Homo sapiens: one gene and its partners. The protein of the gene in region 1 interacts with the protein of each later gene in a pairwise test. Each region holds a gene or a part of one and is shown in the gene's direction. Other genes may lie near its edges.

The links.
Region 2: the proteins of M6PR (region 1) and NINJ2 interact in binary tests that used the Homo sapiens proteins (3 or more experiments, as listed by UniProt).
Region 3: the proteins of M6PR (region 1) and SMCO4 interact in binary tests that used the Homo sapiens proteins (3 or more experiments, as listed by UniProt).

Annotation. Positions count from the first base shown.
Region 1 is NC_000012.12:8,939,846-8,946,660, reverse strand, and holds the end of M6PR (cation-dependent mannose-6-phosphate receptor isoform 1 precursor), read left to right. Parts: intron 1-255; 5' UTR 256-256; coding exon 257-432; intron 433-1,076; coding exon 1,077-1,243; intron 1,244-2,750; coding exon 2,751-2,860; intron 2,861-3,076; exon of another isoform or gene 3,077-3,107; coding exon of another isoform or gene 3,108-3,125; coding exon 3,126-3,256; intron 3,257-4,118; coding exon 4,119-4,245; intron 4,246-4,720; coding exon 4,721-4,843; 3' UTR 4,844-6,300; downstream 6,301-6,815. UniProt on the Homo sapiens protein: Transport of phosphorylated lysosomal enzymes from the Golgi complex and the cell surface to lysosomes.
Region 2 is NC_000012.12:563,792-569,471, reverse strand, and holds the end of NINJ2 (ninjurin-2), read left to right. Parts: intron 1-3,293; coding exon 3,294-3,522; exon of another isoform or gene 3,523-3,867; intron 3,868-4,070; coding exon 4,071-4,237; 3' UTR 4,238-4,255; intron 4,256-4,790; 3' UTR 4,791-5,176; downstream 5,177-5,680. UniProt on the Homo sapiens protein: Its role in unclear. In contrast to NINJ1 paralog, does not mediate plasma membrane rupture (cytolysis) downstream of necroptotic and pyroptotic programmed cell death.
Region 3 is NC_000011.10:93,540,388-93,547,782, reverse strand, and holds the start of SMCO4 (single-pass membrane and coiled-coil domain-containing protein 4), read left to right. Parts: upstream 1-4,391; 5' UTR 4,392-4,507; intron 4,508-7,395.

The DNA of each region.
Region 1 (6,815 bases):
CTCTTCCCAACTTTGTAGTTTGTTCTGAAAGACTCACCTATACATTAGACTACAAGTTACATATAAATGAATTTTCTGCTGCAGATGCTCTTGTTACAGAGATATTAAAATGTACTATGTGTTGCATATGCCAGAGAATCTTGTACTTTCTGGATAATTAAAATACCATCGATTTATTACACATTCATACGCTTTATCTCTTTCCTCTCTCTCCTGATCCTACCTGCCCTCCCCAACACACACTCTCTCCCAAAGGATGTTCCCTTTCTACAGCTGCTGGAGGACTGGACTGCTACTACTACTCCTGGCTGTGGCAGTGAGAGAATCCTGGCAGACAGAAGAAAAAACTTGCGACTTGGTAGGAGAAAAGGGTAAAGAGTCAGAGAAAGAGTTGGCTCTAGTGAAGAGGCTGAAACCACTGTTTAATAAAAGGTAAATGAGAAGAACCTTAAAGAGCTTGAGAAAATATTTATGTTAAAGTCTTTTCTTCTTACTGATTTTATTTCATAATGTGCTCTCTTTTATGACATAGAGCAAATTCTCAGCCCAGTTTTTAGTTGCTGTGTGCAGTTTTCTCATCTTTCACAGAAGTGTAGCTATTTCCAAGACTGGATCCAAGAGACCAGCTTGTAGAAATTTAAGGATTATTTGACACCTACATATAATAGGACTTTAGAAATATCAGATAAACATATTTAGGCCGACACATGTCATTATAAGTGTCAGGAACCTTCAGATATATAAATCTGAAGTTGGTCCCTAAGAAACGAGACTATCCGATGAACATGGGCCCTTATTCATTGGAACATGGTTACTAACAGGCATTCTAAAAATAACTAGAATATTGAGCTATCAAGATAGCTCAAGTGTGTTTTAATAATTCATCATCAGCAATAAGGATGGTCTGTCAAGGTTATGAATATCTTAAAATTAAACAAATATTCACTCAGCCATGACCTCAAATAAATAAATCGAGCATGTTGTTTGTTTTGTTTTAATTAAGGAAAGGGATGCTGTTATTCCTGAGGCTGATAGCTAGTAACTCTCCTCTTCTTTCTTCCCACTTCTCTTTACAGCTTTGAGAGCACTGTGGGCCAGGGTTCAGACACATACATCTACATCTTCAGGGTGTGCCGGGAAGCTGGCAACCACACTTCTGGGGCAGGCCTGGTGCAAATCAACAAAAGTAATGGGAAGGAGACAGTGGTAGGGAGACTCAACGAGACTCACATCTTCAACGGAAGTAAGAAAACTCCCCTTCCTACCATCGATTGACTAACTGATCCCAAGTCAATCCCTCTGACAATCCTGTATGTCTTGGCCGTTTCTAGTGTCTTCAGCATATCATACGTGTGGTTCGGCACACCTGAGACTGTAATATACCACAGGATGCCTAATTCCACAGCTCCTCTGTAAGCCACAGCTCAGGACAGTTGTGCATTAAAATCAGTGAAAAACTTATGCAAAATGAAGACTCTAGCCAGAATTGTTTTGTTTTGTTTTGAGACGGAGTCTCTCTCTGTCACCCAGCCTGGAGTGCAGTGGCACAATCTCGGCTCACTGCAACCTCAGCCTCTTGGGTTCAAGCGATTCTCCAGCCTCAGCCTCCTGAGTAGCTGGGACTACAGGTGTGTGCCATCATGCCCAGCTAATTTTTGTATTTTTAGCAGAGACAGGGTTTCACAATGTTGGCCATGATGGTCTTGATCTTTGACCTCGTGATCTGCCCACCTTGGCCTCCCAAGGTGCTGGGATTACAGGCATGAACCACCGCGCCCAGCCAACTCTAGCCAGAATTCTGTAGCCTAGAGTCCTTTTATTCACCCAAATACTTTTAATGAGTTTCACACTAGACTTACAAATACCAACCACCACCACCACTTTTCATCAAATTAATCAAAGTTTACCAGTTAAATTTTAAGAGCTCAAACTTTTTTTTGCAAACTACTCAGTCTGCAAAACTTTACCCACTGATTTTTGTGCTATGGTGGTGATATTTCTTAAAAGTCATATTGCTGGAGAGGACCATGTAAGCACCTATGGTCCAATTCCCTCCCATACAGATAAATAAGTTATACAAGGTAGCTATTTACTCCTGGTAAATAATACAATAAAAAAGTAACAAAAGGGTTTGGGGCTGGGGATCATGTGACCAGGTTCTCCTCCTGTTTCCTAATCCTGTGACTGGAAAGTCGTATCACCTTTTGACCTTGTTTTCTCATATGCAAAACTAGGAGCAGAATCTTTACCTTATTCACCTCACAATTACTGAATCAAATGATATTTTGCAAAAGAACTGAACACAGTAAATACTAAAGAAGAGATATGCATTCCAATCTTAGATATCCACTCTGAATTTATCTGGGGCTAAGTTGAAATCTTAGATGGGCTTACCCCTGCTGCTCAGCAATTGTATGGAACCTCTTTTTTTGCTTTTAGAAGGTATTCAGAAAATGAATCAGTGTTAAGGTATGGATCATAATTGGTTTTGCATTGTCAGTTGCCTACCTTTAATGTTAAAAATTAAGATTATTCTTAAATGAATATCTGATTCTTGTCTTAAGGGAACACAAGTCTTTGTAAGCAAACAAGTTTAGCTTGGCATTTCTGGTATACCAAGTTCGTACTGATGAGGGTTGTTTAGTTATAACCAATTGCAATGAATTACGCAATTCCACTCTGCCATACCACCCAGATCTGCCTCTGCTTTTCCCCCACCCCATAGCTCCATTTTCCTTGTCCCTCCTCAGGTAATTGGATCATGCTGATCTATAAAGGGGGTGATGAATATGACAACCACTGTGGCAAGGAGCAGCGTCGTGCAGTGGTGATGATCTCCTGCAATCGACACACCCTAGCGGTGAGGCACCCTGTGTTGTATAAGCCGAGGGAGGAGACTGAAAGGACTGACCTGAGGTTGGGGAGAATATCCAGAGGGGACACGATACGTTGGGATGGACATTAGAAAACTAGGAGCTCAGTTTCTCTCTGTGTCAGACACGCATCTTCCATGGAAAATAGGCTGCTGAACCAGGAAGGAGCAGATGTTTTTTGGGTTTTTTATTTTGTTGGACAGGAGTCAAAACACTTAACCACCTGAATGTGTTATGCCATCTCATCATCAGGACAATTTTAACCCTGTGTCTGAGGAGCGTGGCAAAGTCCAAGATTGTTTCTACCTCTTTGAGATGGATAGCAGCCTGGCCTGTTCACCAGAGATCTCCCACCTCAGTGTGGGTTCCATCTTACTTGTCACGTGAGTATGCCTTCCTTTATCAGAACAGACCTTCCTTCCTTTTGTTTTTAAGGTCAGTAACTATATGGTGGTACATAAGCACAAATTGTATGTGTACATTATGCTGTAATTGATGGGGATAACTTTTTAAATCCTCTGGCTATAAAATAATTCTGCCAGGACACAGGGCTCACGCCTGTAATCCCAGCACTTTGGGAAGCCAAGGCAGATGGATCACCTAAGGTCAGGAGTTTGAGACCAACCTGACCAACATGATGAAACTCCGTCTCTACTAAAAATACAAAATTAGCCAGCACAGTGGCACATGCCTGTAATCCCAGCTACTTGGGAGGCTGAGGCAGTAGAATCACTTGAACCTGGGAGGTGGAGGTTGCAGTGAGCTGAGGTCGCACCACTGCACTCCAGCCTGGGCAACAAGGGCAAAACTCCGTCTAAAAAAAAAAAAAAAAAAAATTCTGACTGCAAGTTTTTGAAAAATGAGATTTAATGTTTAGTTGCCGGTATAGATTTGCATTTGGAGGTGCTTTTTTCCCCTACTGCAGGACTAGGCAATTTTTATATTATTTCATTAGATTATGAGAACTTCTAGAGAAATGGAATCATATACTTAATGGTGATTATTCTTGGCCATAGAATCACACGCTGTCACATTTTGTCTGGGCCTTTGCTTCTCTTGGACTGACAGCACTCTAACTGGTTTTCTAAGAGTTACCAGCCCCCTTTTTCATTTAGTATCACTACTCATTTTTCCTTTTCAGGGAATGTATCTTAGGAAACAGCTGACAATAAATGCAGAGGTTATCCTATCTGAGTTTTTACTATTTCCCAGTTCTTAAGTATAGATGTCTTTCTCTCTCTACAGGTTTGCATCACTGGTTGCTGTTTATGTTGTTGGGGGGTTCCTATACCAGCGACTGGTAGTGGGAGCCAAAGGAATGGAGCAGTTTCCCCACTTAGCCTTCTGGCAGGATCTTGGCAACCTGGTAGCAGTAAGTAACAGGGCAGCTGGTTGAATTTGTAGCCTGCAAACAAGGTTGGGTGACCAACCATCCTCGTTTGTTCACACTGAGGGGGTTCCTGGGACACAGGACATTGAGTGCTAAAACCACAAAAGTCCCAGCAAACAAGACAGTTGCCCTAGTACAGAGTAGTAAGTGGCACAGCATCCATTTCTGGCCTTGGTAAGACATTGCTGAAAGAGCAACACTGTTGACCAGATGGGCTCTTCTAAATCTGATTTAGCTTTTAAGAGGGCCTGGGTGGGAAGAAGGTGAGGCCTAATAAGAAGAAACTTTTTCTCCTGTTGCCCCAAATTGAATTTAGGCTGATTGTCAGATCTTTTAGGTTTTCTCATTATCCCTATAGAAAACCAATTCTTGCCACATTCCTAGACCATAAGTACACTTTCTCATATCCTAAAGTTAGATGCTGCGAATTATTTCCTTCTTTTTTTTCCCCCTACAGGATGGCTGTGACTTTGTCTGCCGTTCTAAACCTCGAAATGTGCCTGCAGCATATCGTGGTGTGGGGGATGACCAGCTGGGGGAGGAGTCAGAAGAAAGGGATGACCATTTATTACCAATGTAGATTGCACTTTATATGTCCAGCCTCTTCCTCAGTCCCCCAAACCAAAGCTACACAGCCAGATTTCTCAAGCAGTCTCAACTCCAGTCCCTCATCTCACCCTTACTATTGCTCTTGCTTTCCAGTTTGCTTTTGATTTGCATCTTCTCACTAGTAAAACTGCCTTCCCTTTGTTCCTTATTTTCTGTTTTTTCTCTAGAGAGGTACAGTTGTAAGTCAGAGTTAATATAATAGGGCCTGTGAAAACAGAGGCTTTTGCATTGTCTCTTGACATCAGAAGTTACAATAGGCATATGGGCAAAATGGTGTAGCAGGCTCACTGGCCGTTTGTTTTTTAAACACATTTTCACAAGTTTTTGAGACACTGGATTTCTTTAATTAAAAAAAAAATGCCAAGAAACATTATTTATACAGGGTTGATTGCTTTCATGTTGTTATTCTGTACCCTATAGTAGCCTCCATGAGAATCTGGTATTTCTTGCTGCTTGGAACTACTTTGCAGTGATTACTTGGTTGCAGTCCAAGTACTCTCGTTTAGTCTGAGCCTGGAGATGTTCTAGACTTGCTTCTCCCACCTCTGAGATTAGGACAGGAAAAATGTGAAATTTCCCAATTACAGGATTATACGGTACCATCACATCATTTGTGGAAATTGGGGTGACTGTATAGCTGGGATTGGGCTAAGGACTGTGGTCTTATCTGTCCACATACAGCCAAAATGCCTATCCAGAAATCCAGTTCGTTGGAAAGGAAAATTGGTACTCCTGTGCCACAGGGGTTCCAGAAAAGGGAAGTCACTTTACCTTGCGGTGGTGGGATCCTGATGTCTTTCATCCATTTGTAGTAAAAGCTGGTAAAGCTTTTCTTACTCCTGGTTCCCTACCAGTATTTCTAAACATGTCGCACTTTCTCCACAGGCATGTGGTTTTGACCTTTTTTTCAATCTTCTAGAAAGGGAACGGAAGCAGAAGTGGGACATCGAGGGCTCTGCTGTCCTCTGCGCTGGGTGTGGAATGCTGCTGCACCTGTCCCTTCTGCTGGCTCAGGGAAGTGTCTTCTTGCCCACATTTCTGTGGGGAAAGGTTTTTAATCCTCTGATGCTTCCATCTTCCTGTTTAGGCCATGTGCCCAGAAACCTGGACTGATCTTTCTTTAATAGTGAACCCCTGGGCCACTGAAGAGTAACATGGCTCCACTGGACACAAAAGAGGGATGGAATCAACAGGCAGGGGGCCTTTTATAAGCCTTAGGAAAAGAAAATGAAACTATTTCATCTTTGGACTTTTCAATACTATTGGAGTGATTTTTTTCTTTCTAAACAGGGAAAATAATGTTACAAAAGCATCTTTTTTGTTATTTGTTTGCATCCCTCCCCCACACCCTGGTGTTTTAAAATGAAGAAAAAAAACCATCACCTTTTGTACAAAAACTCTTAATGATTAAAAAACAAACAAAACATATTGGCCTTGTCATTTGTGTGAAAGTGGGCAAAGACTGGAATAGAGTAAGACAACTGAAACCAATTTTCATCCTTTTACTGAGGAAAAAAATATTTAATATTTTTGTTATATAAGGAATAGTGCCTAAGGCAGGTACTTATACTCCTGACCTCAGCCCCACACACTCTGGTTTTATAAAGCTATAGGACAGAGCAGAGATGGAACTGAAAAACAGGGTAGAAAATAACATAAATTGGAGGGGAACAGTGGGATGCAGAAAGAATGACAACAGCCACATGTGCCCCAGTCAAATACTTTTAGTCCCTGCAGCAGAAGATGCCAACCAAGTCTCTATACTGGCTGGGGATCCTGCCATGGATGCAGGAGAAAAAATTCAATCACAAGGGAGTAAGTGACAACAAAAAGAAAAAACTCTGAGCCACAGCTACACTGGGAGGGGGGAGGACCAGATTTTGCTACTTCTGTCACACAAGCTAGAAAAACCCTACCTCTCCCATTGGGCAGGCAACCTGACA
Region 2 (5,680 bases), 8.4 Mb from region 1:
GAGACAGGAGGGGTGGCACAGCCATGGGGCAGGGAGGCCAGGGGGCACAGTTGAACCTGGGCAGAGACACTTTGAATTTGGGTGCAGGGGGTGAGACTCTCTTGCCTAATGAGTGCTCTTGGAGACCGAGGACAAACCTTCACCAAATGGGCTAAGACCACAGGTTGCAGCCTTGGGGCTGACGGCGACCATGGGCCTTTGTGAAGTGTTGGCCCTGGGATCCCTGGCCCTAACCAACCATGCCAGCTGGCCCTAGACAAGCCAGCCTTGCTTGAACTGGATTTCCAAAGGCCCTGAACGCCGTGTGTGGCCTCCCAAGTCCATGCAGGTCCTCATTTACCCTCCATCCCTACCTCCTCCAACCTCACTGGCTGCCCCCAGCACCAGCTGAAACCCCGGCCCCAGCAAAATCAAACACGAAGGAAGATGGGAGAGATAGTGAGCACTCCATTCCTTTCGTGCCTATGGCCTTTTTTCTTATTTCTGTGGGCCCTGGGCCCCAGCCTGATTTTGGTGGCTGTCAAAAGGAGTTTGCCAGGGCCTGTTGTGAGCAGCCTGTGGCCCAGTGCTTACCCGGGGGGCGGGGGGGGGGGGGTGTCCTCACAGCCCCAAGCACCGCCTGGCATGTACAGTCAATCTATTGAATGAATGCTACCCGCTGGTCTCCATTCTACTCTCCCAGAGAAAGTGTTTAAATTGCTCCACTGGCCAAAGTGCACACTCCTGATTACCCTCTGTGAGTCCTGCCCCGTCCAGAAGTTGAGGACACTCGGAATCTCAATAATGAACAACCCAGGTGCAGGGAACTGCCCCGTGTAGAAAGCTGATGGCCTGGAGTGTGGTCAGAGTGAAAGAGCCACTCCTATATGTTTGATCCTCCAATGACTGGTCCACAGAGTCAGAGAGGGGCAGCCTGCGGGGCACAGGCTGCCAGGGTGGATTCCATCAGAGCAGGTGCTGTTAGCACCCATGACCACCCTGTGCCTCTTGAATGTGTCTGTGTGTGTGCACCCTCCTGGCAAACAGAGCAAAGGGCCAGGAGCTTGGAAAGGAAGTGAGAAGAGCAGGGTGGAGACGTGGGGCTGAGTTTTGAAGGCAAACGTTAGGAGAAGGACTGGGGAAGAGAGGCTCCCTTCTGTTGGCCTAGGAGAGGATTGGTCCAATCTGTAGCCAGGCATGTGGATTAGAGCTGGATCTCCAAAGACGAGTGCCCAAGACCATATTTTAGGATAAGAAAATTAAACTTCTATTTATATTGAATTTTATGTAATCCTTTCAAATGTTTCTACTTTTGCATATTTTACTATATATATAATTAGTCCAATAAAAATATGTATAGTTGATAATGGAAGAATGTACATATATTGAGGATGCATGGCCAAAACAGTTTTTAATGCTGAGATTACACTATCAAGAAAGTCTGGAGACTACTGCATTTCAGAGTTTTGTTTTTGTTTTTGTTTTGAGACAAGAGTCTTACTCTGCCACCCAGGCTAGAGTGCAATGGTGCGATCTCTGCTCACTGCAACCTCTGCCTCCTGGTTCAAGTGATTCTCCTGCCTCAGCCTCCTGAGTAGCTGGGATTACAGGCGTGTGACACCATACCCAGCTGATTTTTTTGTATTTTTAGTAGAGACGGGATTTTGCCATGTTGGCCAGGCTAGTCTCAAACTCCTGACCTCAAATGATCCCCCTGCCTTGGCCTCTCAAAGTGCTGGAGTTACGGGCATGAGCCACTGCACCCAGCCTCATTTCGGGGTATCCTAAGGGCTCATAGAATCCAAAGGTTCTGATAGATAGGTAAATCAGTTAGCCTATGTGTAAATCAACTGTCCTCTGTGTAAATCCCTGAGGTACAGAGAAGTGAAGTGACTTGCTGGGGCTGCACGAAGTACAAGGAACATTCCAGACCCTCTGAGACCTGCCTATCCAATCATCCACGCATCCATCCATCCACCCACCAATCTCTCCATCCATCCATCCATCCCTTCATCCATGAAGCTTTATTTTATACTTCAAAACAAAATCAAATGTAAATTATGCTTCAATAAATCCTAGCCAAAAAAATTAAAAACAAATTACGAGTGTTTAACTGGTATGCATCACTGTGCATATATAGGCACGCATCCATCTATCCATCCATCTGTCCCCACGCAGCAGGTATCTGTCCTGTCGTGGTGATCTGCTGGGTCATCTTCCCTACCTCCAGGCCATAGCATCCTTCAATCCATCCGTCTCTCCCCACTCTGCAGGTATCTGTCCTGTCATGGTGATCTGCTGGGTCATCTTCCCTACCTCCAGGCCGTAGCATCCTTCAGAGTCCTCCATTCCTTCCTGTCTCACCTTGCTCCACTTCAGTTCCTTTTCACCCTGATCCTAAATCAATACTATAACTTTTAAATGACTCTCCCTGCTTCTAGCCCTTCCTGGCCCAGTCTGTTCCAAGCACCACTGCTAAATCAATCTTCCAAGTACTCTTGAGTGACTGCAGATTGCCCTTGGTCATGGCGCCCAGTCTGAAATTCTTGGCCCAACCCAGAGGCCCACAGCATATGCCCTGTATTGTGATTCTGTCTTTTGGAGTTAGTGGCTTCTGGAGAAGCTTTAGTAAATTATGCTTCAATAAATCCTAGCCAAAAGTAATAATTAAAATGATGTGAGTGTTTAACTAGTATGCATTACTGTGTGTATACACTCATGCATGCATGCATGTGTATGCTGAGAGCCTGTGTCTGACAGCGTGTGTGCCTGAGCAGGGCGGCAGCTCCAGTGCTCCTGAGGGTTGGAAATCCAGCCGATGATCAGCTGCTGAGCTGTGCACCCTGCCTTGGGGGCCACAGCATTATGCGAGAGGAGGTGCCTTTCTCTATTTCACCCAAGCCTCCAAGCTCTTTTTATTGTCTTCTCAGGTGCTTTCCTCTCAGAGGAAAAGAACACAGCCCAAAGCTGAGGCCTGGCCCAGGTAAAATAGTGAATAGGGTGAGGAAGGTGCATTTTACCAGCAGCAGAGAACCCTCCCGGCTTTCTCCAGCCAGATGTGTGAAGGTGTGAGGGAAGGGGTGACTCTCCAGGAAGTATCAACTGCAACAGAATGTCATTTCAGAGTGCAGAGGTCCTTATGGGTTTTCTCGTCCAACCCTTCATTTTATCAGGCCATGAAACTAAGGGTGTCATTTGCCCTGAGCTTCCCATCTGGATTGGAAAGAGCTTTAAAACCTCTCTCCTCTCTCCCACCTCTCAACTGCTTCCCTTCCAGAGCTCCCCTTGGTAAGTCTGTGCTTTCTCCCCTACAGCCTGGAAGCTCCGACCCCAGGAGCCAGCCCATCAACCTGAACCATTACGCCACCAAGAAGAGCGTGGCGGAGAGCATGCTGGACGTGGCCCTGTTCATGTCCAACGCCATGCGGCTGAAGGCGGTGCTGGAGCAGGGACCATCCTCTCACTACTACACCACCCTGGTCACCCTCATCAGCCTCTCTCTGCTCCTGCAGGTGGTCATCGGTGTCCTGCTCGTGGTCATTGGTGAGGAGCCCAGCCTGCAGTCAGACCTTCTGCCTCGGCACCCGTGGCTGGCAGAAAGGCCCCACGTGTCCCCTGGGCCACCCTGCATTGGCACAGGCAGCTTTGCAACCACACGCTGACCTGCAGTGAGCCCTCCGCTAACAGAGGCCCAAAGACCAACTTCCACCCCGCGAGGGCAGGCGCCCTGTCCTGTCTCCTGGTATCCCATGGAGCAGACCCTCCGCAGTACCTGCTGAATGACTGCGCCAGCACCTCGCTAACTGCTAACTCACTCACTCGCTCACCGCTTCTCCATGAGCACTCGTCCCCACGCTTACAGGACCCAGCTTAAGTTCCCAAATCCTGGTGGGATGAAGCACACTAGGGTGCCCCATTGTACTGGTTGGCGAGGGCAGAGGCATCTCAGCCCGATGACGACCACCTCCCTTGATTTCTGCCACATGGGTTTCTGAAGGGCCCCTCTCTCCAAACTCTGGTGGGTGTTGTGGGGGCAGCTCCGTGCTGTGGCCCCGTCTCTGACCCTTTCCCCCCACTCCACTTCCCTGCAGCACGGCTGAACCTGAATGAGGTAGAAAAGCAGTGGCGACTCAACCAGCTCAACAACGCAGCCACCATCTTGGTCTTCTTCACTGTGGTCATCAATGTTTTCATTACAGCCTTCGGGGCACATAAAACAGGGTTCCTGGCTGCCAGGGCCTCAAGGAATCCTCTCTGAATGCAGCCTGGGACCCAGGTGAGGGAGGATGGAGGAACCCCAGCTCCAGGGACTCCCCAGGTGGCCCTTCTCTCTCCTCTGGGGCTTTGGGGCAAGAAACAGATCCCTTGCCAAACAAAGGGGGAAGGCCTGTAGCTCCGAGAGCAAGGAGAGGATCTGCAAGAGCCTGGCCTCAGCGAGGCTTGCACAAAGCCCCACTGCTGTGTTAATGGCTCTCTGCTCTCAGGCTCAGGTTTTCCCACGGTCTGGGACAGGGTGGAGGCGATGCCATTAGTGGTTGACTCTGCCCCTCCGGCAAGAGGAAAGGTGGAGATGGGGAATTTCTCCCTGCCATTGTCTAGCAGCTCTTGCTACTGACTGTGGTCCATGGGTCAGCAGCATCCACAAACCACCCAGGAACTTGCTGGAAATGCAGAATCTCAGGCTCTGCTCGAGCACGTGCTACAGGCACGTGCATGAGTAACGTGGCCAGGTGCATCCTGGGCATGCTGAAGGTTGAGGGGCATTGATCTGGCCTGCCATCCTCATTGCCTCTTCTCTGCTTCCTCAACAGGTTCTGGGCCTGGAACTTCTGCCTCCTTCCTCCGTGATCTGCCAGGCTCGTGGGCACTTTCCACAGCCCAGGAGAGCTTCTGAAAGGACAGTATAGCTGCCCTTGCTCCCTACCCACAGCACCTGAGTTAAAAAGTGATTTTTATGTTATTGGTCTAAGGGACTTCCATCTTGGTCTGAAGTCCTGAGCTCAGACGCAGGTACTGCCAGCCATACCTTCCTGGTAGCATCTGCTGGACCTAAGTAAGGCATGTCTGTCTAAGGCCAAGTCTGCCCGGCTTAAGGATGCTGGTTCTGACTCTACCCCACTGCTTCCTTCTGCTCCAGGCCTCAATTTTCCCTTCTTGTAAAATGGAATCTATATCTATAAAGGTTTCTTCAAATCCACTCTTGAGTCCACTTACTTGTCTAGTCCTGCAGGCTCAGGCATCCAGGCTGGTCTCCATCTGTGCCTTGGAGAGGGCTCAAGAGAGCAAACCCCAGACCTGGAGGGTGGGAAGGCTTTTAAATTACTTCCTCCTCTGTGGGTTCTGCTCGGAGCCAATGTTCCTGGCCCAGATGTCTTGCGCTTATCGTCATCTGCCCCATGAACTGTAGATTAGTCCATTGCAGGTGGATGCACATATGCACAATCTTCTCCACGAACCTGCTGTAAGCTATTCTGGCTTTCAGTCTCAGCTTCCCTTAGGCATGTGTTTAAGGACTGCAAACTCATTTTGATCTTTGCCTGGGCCAAATATAACGAGGAAGGTAAATCTGTAAAGCATTAGCAAAGCATTGCCAACTCAGAAACAGAAATGATTTTTAGAAGGTCTGCCAGTTTAGAAGCAGCCACTCGTTGGCTTCTCTCCACTGCTCACCAAACCGTTCTGGCCCTATATCTAGCCTTCT
Region 3 (7,395 bases), on another chromosome or scaffold:
ACTCATTATATTCTCTTTGTCTTTTCTCCTTCTTCCTACAAAGTTAATATCACATGGATTAAGTCAGAAGACTCACAAGGCTTATATTATTCATTCATTTGTTTGCTCATTTATTGATTGATTTAATACATATTTATTGAGTTCCTGTATGCACCAGGCTCCATGCTAGGTATTGAAGGTATAGTAGTGGGCAAGCAAACGCAGTCCCTTTTCTCGTGGAGGGAGAATTCGAGAGACACAAACACATGAGAATATGTAACTATAAAAATATGATGAGAACAGTGAAAAAAACAAGGAGTGTCATGAAAGCGTGCAACAGATGGGGTGGTTAAGAAAAGCTTCTCTGAGAAGACGACATTTAAGGCAAGGCCCGAGAGATTATGTAGTGGACATTCACTGGTTTTGTTATCCTTGATCAACTTTCCCTTCTTTGGTAACAATGCCCTGATGATTATGTTTGGAGGCTTTCATTCAAGGTGTCCTGTTCTTCTCTGGCTGAGGGTAGGCATGTGGCCAAGCTAACCAAGGCTGACGTTCTTCTAGGGTTTGGAATCTTGAGTGGAGTGATGCAAAAACAGAAAAACCAGAGTGGCTTGTTCCACTGGTTGAGCCTCAACAAGGTGTCTGTTAGGAATCAAATCTCCATAAGATTCCTGAGCTGTTTGGTCTTTGAGCTTTCCAAAACTTGGCTGAAGAGACTGAGAGCTACCTCTATGTGCACCAAATTTTTTTGTTTACATTATTTCCCAAATAATGTACCACAGAACTCTAATGGGTTCTGGAAAGCGGGATTTAGCAAAGTGAAGAGTTTGGGAAAGAGCACGTCAGTGGAAGGAACAGCATGTGGAAGGGGCTTTCTGTGAAGAAGAGAAGAGCTTGCTGGTTTGGGGAACAGAAAGAAAGCCAGTTGGGCAAAGTGTGCTGAGTGAGGGGCAGAACAGTACCAATATCTCTGTAGGGGCAAGCTGCACCAGACCTCATGGGGCCATGTATAATCGTTTAGATTTTATCACCAGCACATAGGAAAGTTACAGACATATTTTGAGCATGGGAAGAATATTTTAAATAGCAAAAATGTCACAAAGGAAAAACAGAAGAGTTCAACTAACAGCGTAAAGAACTGTGAATTGGTCATCCCAGTTCTGCTCTGAGCCAGCTCCAGGACCTTGGATATTTGTAAGGCTCTGATGATTTCTCTTAGCCCCAGTTTTCTCATCTGTAAAATGAGGTGGTGGGTTAGATGATCTCTAACTCCATCTCTGATGTTTCGTGATCTATGATAAAACCATGCCAATAAATGTAATTGTCATTAAGGAGCTTACAATCAAGTGGGAGAGATAAACACACCTAACCTCTATGATACCTGCTGTTGATGTTCCAGGGAGTTCTAACGTTTAAAGCTTTTGGTAGCTTACAAGCTGATTTTGCCAGCCCATTGTTATGTTGACTGCCAAAGGATTTTAAACAGTACTAGGCTCAGTAACCAATTCAATGAAGAACTTTCAAAGAGGGTATTTACATGAAGTGTGATGCTCTGCTAAGCTTAGATTTAGTGACTTCAACTGAATGCTTCATAACAGAAAACGCTAGCAAGAGTACTGATTCTTGGGTGAATTTCATCTAGAACTTGTAACTGCAGGAGTGCCTGTGAGTGATCTGTGTGTCAGTTATCTATTACTGTATAACAAACCACCCTAACACTTAGTGATTTGAAACAACCACCATTTTATTTCTCACAATTCCTGGGTTGGCTGGACTATTTTTGGCTGGCTTTCCCTGGAGCTCACTCATGTGGCTGAGAGCTGGTGGGCTGCATAGCTGGGACAGCAAGGCTTTCTCTTCTCAGGGTCTTTCCTCTTCAAGGAGTTGGACCAGGTTTCTTCATGGCAGTCTCAGGATAGCATTTCAAGAAAGCAAGGAGCAAGGCACAAGTGCACATCGAAAGCCCCTGCTTGTGTCATATTTGTTCATGTCCCAGTAGCTAAAGGAAGTCACAAGGCCAACTCCAGGGTCAACGTGGGAGGGAGCTACAGAAGGACAACTCAGTAGGGGTGATTCATTAGAAGCCATTAGTGTAAAATGTGTAAACTTTTCCTCTGAGACTTGCATTGCAAGATACACAACTCTAACCTATAAAGGATGACACTTTCTTTTTCTTTTCTCTCTCTCTCTCTTTTTTTTTTTTTTTTTTTTTGAGACAGAGTTTCACTCTTGTTGCCCAGGCTGGAGTGCAGTGGCATGATCTCAGCTCACTACAACCTCCGCCTTCTGGGTTCAGGTGATTCTCCTGCCTCAGGCCTCCCAAGTAGCTGGGATTATAGGTGCCTGCCACCACGCCCAGCTAGTTTTTGTATTTTCAGTAGAGACGGGGTTCATCGTGTTGGCCAGGTTGATCCCGAACTCCTGACCTCAGGTGATCCACCCACCTCGGCCTCCCAAAGTGCAGGGATTACAGGGGTAAGCCACCACGCCCAGCCAAGGATGGCACTTTCACAGACACAATATCTATGTTATTACTACTATAAGGGAGCATGTGGAGTCACCTTATTAAGGGACTGAGTCCTACATCAGTGGCTCTGCTTGCCTCATAAAATTATTCATTAATTTTTAGCAGTGGCCTTGGGAAGTTGTGTACATAATATTTAGAGGAAAATGGCATTTACAATGATAATGAATTAAAGCAATTCACACGGCAGTACCACTGCCCCAATTTAAACCTTGAGGCTTGCTAATTTCATATTTAGCTGCATCCCATATGCTCCCAATCCCTCTGCCCTAGTGTGGAGCTACAGCTCAAACTCCTTTGAAGGTAGGAAACTTACCTCACACACGCGTGTTCCCCTCATTCTTTCAGCGCATAGAACACTAAAAAGATGCTCCTTAAATACATGCTAAATAAACTGATCAATAGTTGCCTTTTATTAAATATCTTTGTGTTTCAGGTATTTCCTTATTTCCTTCACAGACCGGATCATGAATGATCTCCCAATGTGACAAGGTCTTATTCTCCACAGTTTACCGTTGAGGGGACTGAGGTGCAGAAAGCCCAAGGTGTATGCAGCCCAATCCCCTCTGATCCCACTCTACTGCATTGCTGCCTTTTGTACGCAGCAGGAAGGACACTTCCTGTAAAAATGAAAAAAAAAGCCTTAAGTTGTTTGAGAGAGGGTCAGGAAGAAAACAGGAAGAGCCAGTAGACTGCAGGTGCTTTCAAAGGGCTCCCTGTCTTTGACATCCCTAAAATAAAAACTTGTTAATTAAGAGATTGGCCACAGAAATCCAGGTGGAAAACCTGCAGAAGAGTGGGTTCCACAATTCTTCAAAACAGAACAAAAAAACCCCAAGACTTGTTATATTTTTACCGGTGGAGGGGAAGAGGTTACAGGAGTGGCCTTGCTCCCCGGGCTGGCCTTGCTGAGCAGGTGACAATACCACACATATAAAGGTTTTAAGGTGAAAAGGTAGTCAATATTTTACATTTCGAAGATAGTTTTTAAAATCACCTACTGCATCAGTAGTAATACAACAATAACTACCATTTACATACCACCGCACACATCGGGGCTGCGTAAAGAACTTTATAGTGCACCATCTCAATTAATTCTCACAACTCTGTGAAGTAGGTTTTATTATTCTTAATTTATAGACGTGTTCACTGTGGGCCAGGGAGATGAGCTTTCCCGCGATTGCCCAGCTTTTAAGAGGTAGATCTCAAACCTAAACGTGTTTGACCAAAAGCCCTGAATAACATTTAGCCGTGGGCCTCTTGCGGATTTGGCGCTGGTCCGAGGTGGGGAATTGTGAATCTCATTTATTTATGCTGAGCTGCGCACACATATGCACGTGTAAGTTACAAAAAACAAATCCAGGTCAGGATCTCTGTCCGCTTGAGGTTTCAAAGCCTACTTGGGTAGACAGCGGTAAAAGTCTCAACTCATTCATCTACTCGTTTGCTCTCTTCACAAGTATTTATTGCGCACTTCAGTATTCCAGACAGGGCGCTAACCTTGCCCTGGAGGAGAGAATGGTGAACACAACAGACATGGCGTTTGCCTCCAACTATCCCCTTTCCGATTCTGCTATCTCACGGGCGAGGCGTTCAAAGAAGCAGGAAATATATCAACAAGGGGGTGACTTAAGCACCCGCTGCGCGGGAGCCGGAGGAAGCGCGCTGAGCCTGCAGAGGTGGTCAGGGCGAACTTCCTGGAGGCAGCGGCAGCAGCAGGCCGGGCGAGAACCCAGGTCGCTCGGAAGCGACAGTCTGAGCCGGGAACGGGGAAGAGGGGGCGGGAGCCGAGGCCCGGGCGGGGGCAGCCAGCGAGTTAGGGTTAGGACGGGAGGATTCGGCTTCCCGGCGGCAGAGGGCGCCTGGCGCTGCGGTCTGGCGCGCCAGAGTCGCCCGCGCGGGCGCCGAGAGGAGAGGCGAGGCGGGGAGCGCAAGCGGCGGCGGCCACTGCCACGTATTCCCGGCAGTGGTGGCGGCGGCGGCGGCGGCGCCCGCGGGCAGGTGGGCTGGGAGCGGCGCGGCGGCGGCGGCGGCGGGGCGGGCGAGCCGGCGGGCGGGCGCGGGGCACGGGGCACCGGGCACCGGGCGGGGGTGCGGCGCCGGGACAGTACGGTTCCCGCCACGCCGGCTCCGCCTCCGCGCAGTGCTGCTGACCCAGGCCTGGGCGCCCGGCGGGTCCCGAGCGCAACTCGTGCGGGCGGGGTTGGGGGCCCGAGGGACTCGAGCTCGCCTGCCCGTCGCGGCTCGAGACGCTGCATCCCGGTTGCTGCGGGGCGGGGGCTGGGAAAAGTTGGGGCGGACCGCGAGCCCGCGGGGCCGGGCGGGAAGTGCGGGTGCGGGGCGGACTCAGGGGCCGGGGGACGCAGTGCAAAGGGCTTGGGCCGGGGCGGCCGGGAGGGCCCCGTATGGGAAGGTGGGAAACGCGGGTCCTTTGAGGACGCCGAGAAAGGGGTGCGCTCAGGGTCTCTGGGAGTGGACAAGAGTCCGGCGGCGGACCTTGCGGGTGAGAAGGGTCGGCGCCTGGGGGTCGGGGAGTAGAGGTGAGGCGGGGGCGGGATAGAGCCTTCCTCCTCCCCCGTTCTTTCGGGACCGACCCTGAGACCCGGGGCAGGCTCCGAGCTGGGTACGCCTCTGGCATCTGAAGACCCAGTGGGGAGTTCCTGTACGGGGTGGGTGGAGGAGGGAGCTGAGCGTTGCTTCCTCTGCTGCTGGGGCCGACTACCGCCCCTCCCCAGCGGCCAGATTCACCTCAGACTGCAGTGCTTTTGCCCTGAGGAAGTTGAGGAGGGACAGCTGAGCGGATGAGATGTTTGGGGTGTTCCAAGATGAGTGGGATTAGGCTGCATGATATCATAACTATCTCCGGGAGCTGTCAGAAAACACTCCCATGTCCTCATACACCCACCCATCCACTCATCCAGTCAGTACTGCCAAGCTCCAGGCTCCCTTGCTCTTTAAGTGACACCTCTAGATCCCCAGAGCCCAACAGCGCATCTGCTCACAGCCTCGAGGGTGGCAAGGGTGGAAGACATGGCCTGCTAGTGTCTGCGTAGGTTGGTGCTTTCAGAAACAAGTGGTTCTGGAGGTGCTGGATGCTTTATTAGAACAACCTGTGTGGAGCCCGTTGACAATGCAGATGACTCATGTTGGCTTTTTTTTTTTCCCCTTTACAAATAAACTTTGTATTCAAGACACCAGTATGCCTGGTCATTTGCAGCAGTGATACGGCAAGAGACCCATAGTGGGCTTCTTGAGCCCTTATTCTCGTCCTAGATGTGTTAGCAAGAAGTTTGACCTTGGATGAGTCACTTGCTCTCTCTGGACTTCTGTTTTCTTATCTGTCACATGGGGTATAAAGAGAGAGCTCGACAGTGTGATGTAGACAGGAGTAGGTTTCTGAGGGACACAGTGAAATCTTTTTTCTTGTAAGGCTGGATCAGCCACAGAAAATAAGCCTTAGCCTGTTCTTATAAAGAAATTAGCTTAGATTTAAAATAAAATATGAGAAGAAATATTGCAAAAAGCAAAACAACAAAAAACTAATAGTAGTTGGTACTCGATTTACAACATGAATACTGTTCTTATGCTTGCAGTTAGTGTACTTGGTTGTCCAGCTATCTACTATAAAGTTGCTCATTGTGCTTAGAAAGTGTGTATTTCACCTGTGGACCCGAATTTTTTCTTATTGTTTAATCTTCAAGCTTGGAGTGGACGCTCAAGCTTGGAGTTGGATTGGTCCTGCTGGGGTTTGTCTGAAGAACATCCTCAGGGTCTCTCATTGCATAATATTATAGGTTTCCTTCTGTCTGACTGATGCTGGGGTCCTTGTACAACTATGCTTCTGCCATCTTTTCCATTCTGGCTTGAGAAGTGGTGAGCTGGTTCCTCTTGCCTCTGGCATGCCCAGACTTCTCATTTCTTTTCAGATGAGTGTAGTAAAAGGCAAGCAGTGAGTTAGAGGCAGCACATTAAAAATTGCTCCAGGCAATCATCTGTGTCCCCTCCACCCCGCTCCTGTCCCCTAGACCCCCTGGGCAACTTCTCACTAGAGCTTCCTGGTCATAAGCTGGCCTTGACATTTTGGGTGCTGAGGGCCATCACAGCATTGAAGTGACTTGGCCAGGGTCACACCACACATTAATGATCAAGCCATGGTGCTGGAAGAAGAGGAATTTTTTTTGTGTGTGTATTTTGTCATAACTGAATGTTCCTGTTCTTGTCCATTAGTAGCTTTCAAAATCCATATTGGGTTTGACCACATCATTTTCAGTAATCCTTTTTTGTCAGCTTTTTGGAAGCTGCAGTTAGTGGTTCTCTCTGAGTTTGAGGTAGTGGTATTTTATTATTAAACAATTTTTTCCAAATATTTTTTAAACTACTTTCCTTTTCAGACCAGATGAGGTAGTGTTAAAAATGATATCTTCTCCAACAAGTAAAGGCTTGATTAATTAGGTTGAGTCTTTAAAATATCTAGTGTTTGTGTGTGTATAAATTTTACTTTAATTGAGAAGTATTGATAAAAATCATAATCGTCACCATTTGAGCCCCTGCCATTGAGCAGGCATTGTGAGGTAGGAGTGAGCATCATTTTACAGGAGAGAAAACAAAGCCAAGAGATGGCACGACTCTGGTACAGCTGTCGTGCATAAGTTACTGATGATCTTTCAATCCATGTACCATTTTGTTAACAGTGGAAAAGGAATTCTCAGCTATCCTACAGGGTTGTGCTAGTTAAATGAGATACTGTATGTGAAGAGCAACAAGTAAACTCTTAACGGGCTCCCTAACCCAGCACATTTTAACATAAACACTTGTAGACTCTGGAAGCAGTGTGGTGAAGTGGTTAAGTTCAAGCGTCTTGGGAGTCTGGCAGGCCTGGGTGTAAATAC